Regions from separate parts of the Homo sapiens genome. Here region 1 is linked to region 2. Evidence: fine-mapped expression QTL. A gene starts in region 2. The other region holds a variant in brackets. All regions are shown on one strand. Distances are from middle to middle.

The links.
Region 1: its variant is fine-mapped to the expression of SYN1 in whole blood (TOPMed, PIP 0.98).

Annotation. Positions count from the first base shown.
Region 1 is chrX:47,594,120-47,598,510 of GRCh38, forward strand. All of the region lies in intron 5 of SYN1 (synapsin I), which reads right to left. Among named protein-coding and RNA genes, the nearest start is that of MIR4769, 8.9 kb to the left of the region's middle. The variant C/A (reference allele first, on the strand shown) is at 2,127.
Region 2 is chrX:47,618,064-47,622,454 of GRCh38, forward strand. It overlaps SYN1 (synapsin I), which reads right to left and starts at 1,794. Exons shown (of 13, transcript NM_006950.3): 1 at 1,289-1,794. The coding sequence starts at 1,665. RefSeq lists silencers at 1,807-2,101, 1,808-2,017.

The sequences.
Region 1 (4,391 bases), 24 kb before region 2:
GCTACTCAGGAGGCTGAGGTGGGAAGGTTGCTTGAGTCCAGGAGGCGGAGGTTGCAGTGAGCCAAGATTGCGCCACTGCACTCCAGCCTGGGCGACAGAGTCACGGACTCTATCTCAAAAAAAAAAAAAAGGCTGGGTGCAGTGGCTCACGTCTGTAATCCCAGAACTTTGGGAGGCAGAGGCAAGTGGATCACCTGAGGCCAGGAGTTCAAGACCAGCCTGGCTAACATGGTGAACCCCATCTCTACTAAAAATACAAAAATAATTAGCTGGGTGTGGTGGCACACACCTGTAGTCCCAGCTACTTGGGAGGCTGATGCAAGAGAATTGCTTGAACCCGGGAGGCAGAGGCTGCAGTGAGCCAAGACCACACCACCACACTCCAGTTGGGTGACAAAGTGAGACTCTGTCTCAAAAAAAAAAAAAAGAAAAAGAAAAAAAAAGACCTCCCTTTTAGAAGGGGTCCTGCCCAATACCCAGAAGGAAGGGATGTTGCAGAGAGAGTCTAAGGCTCTGAACAGACAGGCCTTGCTGGGTTTCCCCACTCAGTCTGTTAGTACAAGATCACACCCTTTTTGTCCCATCACATTTCTTTCTTTCTTTTCTTTTCTTTTTTTTTTTTTTTGAGACAGAGTTTCGCTCTTGTTGCCCAGGCTGGAGTGCAATGGTGTGATCTCAGCTCACCGCAACCTCCGTCTCCTTGGTTCAAGCAATTCTCCTGCCTCAGCCGCTCGAGTAGCTGGGATTACAGGCATGCGCCACTGCCCCTGGCTAATTTTGTATTTTTAGTAGGTACGGGGTTTCTCCATGTTGGTCAGGCTGGTCTAGAACTCCCGACCTCAGGTGATCCGCCTGCCTCAGCCTCCCAAAGTGCTGGGATTACAGGTGTGAGCCACTGCGCCTGGCTGTCCCATCACATTTCTATACAGTTATAAATCCTGCCTATGCAATGAAGTCTCCATGAAGGGCTGAAGAGGATGGAGTTGGAGAGCTTCTGGATAGCCGAACATGTGGGGTTCCTGGAGGGTGGCTACCTGGGGGTGGGGCATGGAAGCTCTGTGCTCTTTCCCACATGCTTCGTCCTCTGCATCTCTTCATCTGTATCCTTTGTAATGTAATACTCTTTACAATAAACCGATCATGTAAATAAGTGTTTCCCTGAGTTCCATGAGCCACACTAGCAAACTAATTGAACCTGAGGAAGGGGTTGTGGACCCCGATTTATAGCTAGTTGGTCAGAAGCACAGGTAAAATAACCTGGGGCTTGCCATCAGCATTAGAAGTAGGGCTTAGTCCTGTGGGACTACACCCTTAACCTGTGTGATCTGATGCTATCCTCCAGGTAGATAGTGTCAGAATTGAATTGCAGGACATCCAGCTGGTATATTAATTTGCTGCAGAATTAATTGCTTCTTGGTGTGTGTGTAAAAGCCTCCACACATGGTATTGTGAGAGCAGAAGAAAAAACAGTTTGATTCTTCTACTCACACACATATAACAATTTTATATATACACATATATGAAATTATATATATATACATAAAGAAATGAAATGTCCTAGCTGTGTACAATGAGAGGGCCTTGAAGCAAGAACATTCCAGTAGCAATGAGTAAATCTAGTTCCCAGATCTTGGCTTTGAAATACTATTATCTTTGGGCTGGGGCCGGGAAAGAACAAGATATGCCTGGAGGTGATGTCAGCAGAAATGTAAGAGCCTGTCTTCTCCTCCTTAAAATTGCTTAAAAGCAATGAGAACACTGGCAAAAATTGTCAAAACAAACTTATCAGAACTCTGGAAATTGACCAAGGTTTACAATTCAGAAAGCATTTTTTCAAGAAAATGGCTGAATCTTGGTAACAACAGGAAGCTGTGGCATTTGAACTTCTCTTGTACACATCCCCTTCTCCTCACCTCCACAAGAGCCTTGAAAATCAACAGCCCTGCAATTCCAGTGAAAACCAGCAGACTAGCAACCATTGGAGGAGGCAGAACAGGGTTGGAGTTCCTCCAAAATCTCATTTCCAGAGAACTGTCTTTATTTGATCTGTCTGGCACTATCCTGAATACTCCACTCATGGGGCTCATCTGGTATAAACAGCTTTCTCTGGGGGTGCTTTTCAGAAA[C/A]AATTAGCAGCAACTGTTTAACACAGCAGTGATAACATTTAGGAAAAAACAACAAGCTTTTCAAGAAAACTTAAAAGGAAAATCTAGGTAATTATATATCCATTATCAGTCCATTATTAGGCTTTAAAAAGCTCTGACATATGCCTGGGAATCTAGAAAACCACAAATACGCATAAGGCTGTATGTATGCCTAGGATCTCTGGCTGACCTCAAAACTCTGCACAAGCAGGAAATGAAGGATAAGGCAAAGTTGTAAACAGCCTGCCTTTGCATTAAAGGCACACCCTGACATGCACATAGAGCCCATCAGCAAAGTCTGGGAGACTTACTGGTTTCAGGTGATTTAAAGAAATATCTGTCCAATCATTAGCTGACCACTAAGCTAACGGAGCAGAGACTTGGGTAGCCACATATGACAAAGAACACAGGCTTTACAGAATTAGTTCAGGAAGGTCACTAAAAACAAAACAAAGCAATAAAAACAAATCCTGAGGAGGGGAGAGAACCTGATTCCCAGAGTTGCCACATTATATTATTTAAATGTCCAGTTTTCAACAAAAATGTATGAGAGATGCAAAGAAACAAAATTAAGTGTGGCCCAAACACAGGGAAAAAAGCAGTCAAACACTATCCCTGAGGAAACCCAGATGTTAGACTTAATAGGCAAAAACTGTAAATCAGTGATTTTTAATATTTTCAAAGAACTAAAGGAAACTATGTTTAAAGAACTTAAAGGAAAGGATAAAATGATATCCTAATAAGTAGAGAGTATCAATAAAGAGAAATTACATGAAAAAGAAATTCTGGGCCGGGCATGGTGGCTCATGCCTGTAATCCCAGCACTTTGGGAGACTGAGGCGGGTGGATCACCTGAGGTCAGGAGTTTGAGACCAGCCTGGCCAATACGGTGAAACCCCCCTCTCAACTAAAAATACAAAAATTATCCAGGCATGGTGGCGTGTGCCTGTAATCCCAGCTACTCGGGAGGCTGAGGCACGAGAATTGCTTGAACCTGGGAGGTGGAGGTTGCAGTGAGCCGAGATTGTGCCATTGCACTCTAGCCTGGGTGACAGGAGTGAAACTCCATCTCAAAAAAAAAAAAAAAAAGAAATTCTGGAGATAAAAAGCATAATAACTGAAATGAAAAATTCACTAGAGGGGATCAACAGTAGCTTTGAGCTGGCAGGGTAAAGAATCAGTGAATTTGAAGACAGGTCAGGTGAGATGATCCAATCTGAGGAACAGGAAGAAGAAAAGTAAACAAAATGAACACAGTCCTAGAGGTCTGTGGAACACCATGAAGCATATGAACACCCACATAATGGAAGTCCCAAAAGGAGAGAGAAAAGAGAGAAAAAAAGGTGCAAGAAAGACTATTTGAAGGAATAATGGCTAAAAATCCCCCCAATTTGATTTAAAGCATTAATCTATGCATTCAAGAAGTGCACTGAACTCCAACTAAGATAAATTCAAAGAGATAGGCACCCAGACACATCATAAACTTATAAAAGCTAAAGACAGAGAGAATCTTGAAAGTAAGAGAGAAGTAACTCATCATATACAAGGAATCCTCAATAGGATTAGCAGCTAATTTCTCATTAGAAATCTTGAAGTCAGAGGGCAGTAGGACAACATATTCAAAGTACTGAAAGAAAAAGACTGCCAAACAAGAATTCTACATCCAGCAAAATTATCTTTCAAAAATGAAGGAGAAATTAAGACATTCACAGATAAACAAAAACTGAGATAGTTCATCACTAACAAACTTCTACAAAAAATGCTAAACGGAGTCCTTCAGGGTGAAATAAAATGATACTAGCTAGTAATGTAAATCTACATAAAGAAATAAATAGCACCTGTAAAGTTAACTACATAGGTAAATATAAAAGACAGTATAAATGCATTTTTTTGCGTGTAACACTTTTTTACTCCTGATTTAAAAGACAACTGCATAAAGCAATAACTATAACTATGTTCATGGGCACACAATGTGTAAAGATGTAATTTGTTTGACAATAATAGCACAAAGGAGGGATGAAGGAATAAAGTTATATAGAGGCAATTTCTTTGTATTACTGAGCTTAATTTGGTATTAATTCTAATTGGAGTAATATAAATAATGATGTTAATTGTAATACCCAAGGAAACAACTAAGAAAAAAAAAAAACAGGCTAAGTGCAGTGGCTCATGCCTGTAATCACAACACTTTGGGAGGCCAAGGTGGGTAACTTGAGCTCAGGAGTTTGAGACCAGCATGGGCAACAT
Region 2 (4,391 bases):
ACAGCAGGTGCTCCATAAATACTCCAAGGAGTGATTAAAAGAAAAGGTCTTTGGAAAGAGTGACTGGAATGGTACACACAGCAAGTGCCAGATATCTGAGCACTGTATTAACTGGAGGCACAGGCCTTTATGGAGAGGTCTAAGGTTGGGTCATGCAGAAAGTGCTCAATACATGCAGACTGAAGCCACTGGAGGAAAGGGTATTGCAGAAAGGGTTTGAGGGTGGGGTATACAGCAGGCACCAGTCAATGCATGCTTGCTGAATACACTGGAGGAAAGAACTTTTAGAGAAGGCTCACACTGCAGGCAGTTGATAAATGCTAGATGGATCCACCAAAGGAAAGGTCTTTGAAGAAGTAGCTGGAGAACGGGGGATACAAGAGGCACTCAATAAATGTTTTCTAGATCCACTGTAGGGAAAGGTCTTTGAGGAGACGGTCTGAAGATGAGTCACACAAAGAAGGTTCAAAACTGCTCATGGAACTCACTGGAGGAAAATGATTTGTTTGAGAAGGGGTTTGGGGGTGCGGCACGTATCAGGCACTTAACAAATGCTTCCTAGATCCTTTGGAGAAAAGGCCCTCAGAGAGAGGGCTTGGAGTTGGGGCACAGAGAAGGCATCCAATCAAAACTCACAGGATCCATGAAAGGCAAAGCTTTTGGAGAGAAGCTGGGGTGGGATACACAGCAGGTACTCAATGTTTACTAAATAGTTTAAAAGGGCTTTAAGGACGGAGCTGGGGTGGGACACATAGCATAGACTGGACACATGCTCACAAGACCCATTAGAGAAGGCCTCAGGGCAAGGGTTGAGGAGAACAGGACAGTATCAGGCTCTCAAAGAATGCTCACAAACCTCATTGAAATCAAAGGCCTTGGGGAAGGGCTCTTGGATGAGGCATACTGCAGGTACTAGATAAGTGCTCACAAGATCCATTAGAGGACAAGGCCTATGGGGCAAGGGTTGGGGAGGGTAGGAAGGACACGTTCGGTTTTCGAAGGCTCATAGGATATATTGAAGCCAAAGACTTTTGGGGGAGGGGTAGTAGGGAACAGGTACGCAGCAGGTGCCTGATAATTGCTCCCTGGATCCATCAAGGTTTAAGGGGCGGAGGGGGGCGACAAGGGCGGGGCACAGAGGAAGCATCCAGCTTAATAATTTAAAGGAAAAAGATTTAGGTGAGAGGGCCAGGTGTCAGGCACACAAGCGGCGCTCGATAATTGCTCATTCGCAGAAGAACGATCTGGGGACCCAGGCCCACGGGAGACGTCCGCGGCAGTGGCTTACCAGTCGGTGTGCGGCTCGTCGATGACCAGCAGCACCCTGGAGGCGGCTCCCCCGCGGCCTGCGCCCCCAGAGCCGCCGCCCACCTGCTCGCTGAAGGTGGCAGCTGCCGCCGCCGTGGTCTGCTTGACCGCGTTGGACAGCGACGAGAAGAAGCCACCGCCCCCCGAGGACCCGGGGCTAGGGGCGGCCGGAGAGGCCGCTGGGGCGACCCCGGAGGACCTCTCGGCAGTGGCGGTCCCGGGACCGGGCGTGGCTCCGGGGCTGTGGGCACCGGGCGGCGGTGGGGGCGGCTGCGGACGCTGCAGGTCTGTCATGTACCCATTTGGCAGATTGGCCATAAAGTTGCTGTCCGACAGGCGGCGCCGCAGGTAGTTCATGGCTGCGACTTGGGGCAGGGGGTCCTAGGGGTGGTCTGGCCAGGAGCCGCGGGGGCGGACTGCGCGGTGCCCAGGAGCACAGCTGCGCTCTCAGGCACGACACGACTCCTCCGCTGCCCACCGCAGACTGAGGCAGCGCTGAGTCGCCGGCGCCGCAGCGCAGATGGTCGCGCCCGTGCCCCCCTATCTCGCGCCTCGCGTGGTGCGGTCCGGCTGGGCCGGCGGCGGCGCGGACGCGACCAAGGTGGCCGGGAAGGGGAGTTTGCGGGGGACCGGCGAGTGACGTCAGCGCGCCTTCAGTGCTGAGGCGGCGGTGGCGCGCGCCGCCAGGCGGGGGCGAAGGCACTGTCCGCGGTGCTGAAGCTGGCAGTGCGCACGCGCCTCGCCGCATCCTGTTTCCCCTCCCCCTCTCTGATAGGGGATGCGCAATTTGGGGAATGGGGGTTGGGTGCTTGTCCAGTGGGTCGGGGTCGGTCGTCAGGTAGGCACCCCCACCCCGCCTCATCCTGGTCCTAAAACCCACTTGCACTCATACGCAGGGCCCTCTGCAGATACTCGGTTTGTAGTGTTGATATTCAACTCAGAAGGCATTTTTTGGGGGGAGGGGGGCACTGGAAGCACACTCAGAGACACGAAAGTAGAGAAATAACCCCCTCACAGAGGGGGGTGAGGTCACACGCAGTGCCCGCGGGGAGATTAGTCTCCCACATCCACACAGGCTCAGCTAGGCAGAGAGCGGGGGCGTCACAGACAGCATCAGACAAGCGGAGGTGGACACTTGGGTGGTGTACACACCCTTGCCCAAGGTGGCAAGGGGGGCCTGGAGGCACACAAGAAATGACACACATATAAACACACACAAAAGTGAGGAAACATACGAGGGCATGTACAGACAGAACACACGCCAATCTAGGTATACATACAGACATACAAGTCCAGAGTAACACACATGGGCATGTTACATACATGCATGCATACACCCATACCCCCACACACACAGGTAACACACTGACACACAGAGACCCAGGGAAACTCATATGAGCATACACTTGCAGACAAAACACATTCCCACCGATGATCATGGAGAAACCTAGATCTGCAACACAGACATTCTCTGCAGCCCTAGCCCTGGTGCGTGTCCACCCCCACACCAGAACACACTTGGTATATACGCCACCATCCCTTTGCTCTGGACACCGCCAAAACTCACGATAACTACCTGATGTCATCAGTGCCCATGGCTGTCTCCCCCTGCACCCAAGAACTTTCCACAGAGGCAGGCCCATCCCATGGTGCACACACAGTAGGTACCAAATAATGTTTGCATATGAGCAAATGAGGTAGTCCAAGCAGAGGTGGGATATGGGAACCTGTCAAATCTTTATGATTCTGACTACAATAAAAGCACTAATTCATAATCATTTGTTCACTGATTGTACCCAACTCTTAACTAAGCTGTTTACATGCATCATTTCATCCAACCCTCACAACAATCCAGTGGGGTGGATAATATAATGTCTATTTTACAGATGAGGGAATACAAGAACTCCAGTTAATTCCCAAAGGGTCATGTTCACTTTATGATCAACACATTTTTTTAAGAATGTGCCAGGAAGAGGAAACATCCAGTGCCAATGTGGCTGGAACAAGCTGAAGGGGGTTGTGGTAGCAGGGGCCAGATTGGGTAGGACCTTGACCATAGTGAGCAGTGATGGTGGACTAGGAGAGGTGGCAGAAGATAGGCAAGAAGTAAGTAGATATGGAGTCTCTTTTGCCTGCAGAATTTTCAGGTGACTCATCCACTTATTCATTTGTTCATCCTTTATTCATTAAATCATTGGCTGGTTTAAACAAGGCAGTAATAGTGTGGGGTCTGGAGACACAGTGCCTGGGTTCAAGTGGGGCCTCCACCATACACTTGGGAAAGTGACTTAATCTTTCTGAGATTTGGTTTCCTCATCTGTAAAAAGGATACATCTCTAACCCACCTCTAAGGAGAGGGGTAGGAAGGGGGCAACCTCTGTACCTTTGCATGTGTTGTAACTTCTGCCAGGAATGTCCTCTCCTTCTCTCTCGAGGGCTGCCTTTGGCCACTGTCTGCAGGAACCCCTCACCCCCAGGTCTCAGATTCTATCCCCTCCTCCCCTAGGCTTCCACAGTACCCAAGTCAAACACTTCCCAAACCATCCTCTACTCCCTCCTCCAACCCAGCCAGCTTCAGTCCCACCTCCAGGCCTTTGATTTGGCCACTCTTTTCTCCTCCCTTCAGGATTCCTTCTCTGGCATTCCAAATCCTAGTGTTACCCAGATGGGGATCTCCCCGCAAATCAGATATTTTCCAATGTCTTGAAGTATGTGCTCCCTGGTTTTTTGCCCAGTAACGGAAGCAAACAAGCTGTGCAGGGCGCGGTGCCCTCTTTGGGGACAGGAACAGCTGCAGGTCTACAGATCTTTCTGACTCCTTTAGGTCTGAATTCAGGTTCCTCGGGAATCTATCTCCAGGCTGCGCCTCTTCCTGGGGTCCCCATTCCTAGGTTCCTAGTACTTGTGGCCCCAGCACCATTTCATTTTTCCACGTGGCTCAATTTCCAGAAATTAATTTTTTGTAGATTGTTTTGTAGAGGAATGAGGATTCACCTCAGGAGTGCCTCAATTCACTAAGGCAAAGGTTAGGCTCCCCCAAACTGTCTCCATCTTGTTCAGCAGGAATAGGCGTACAAAAGGGG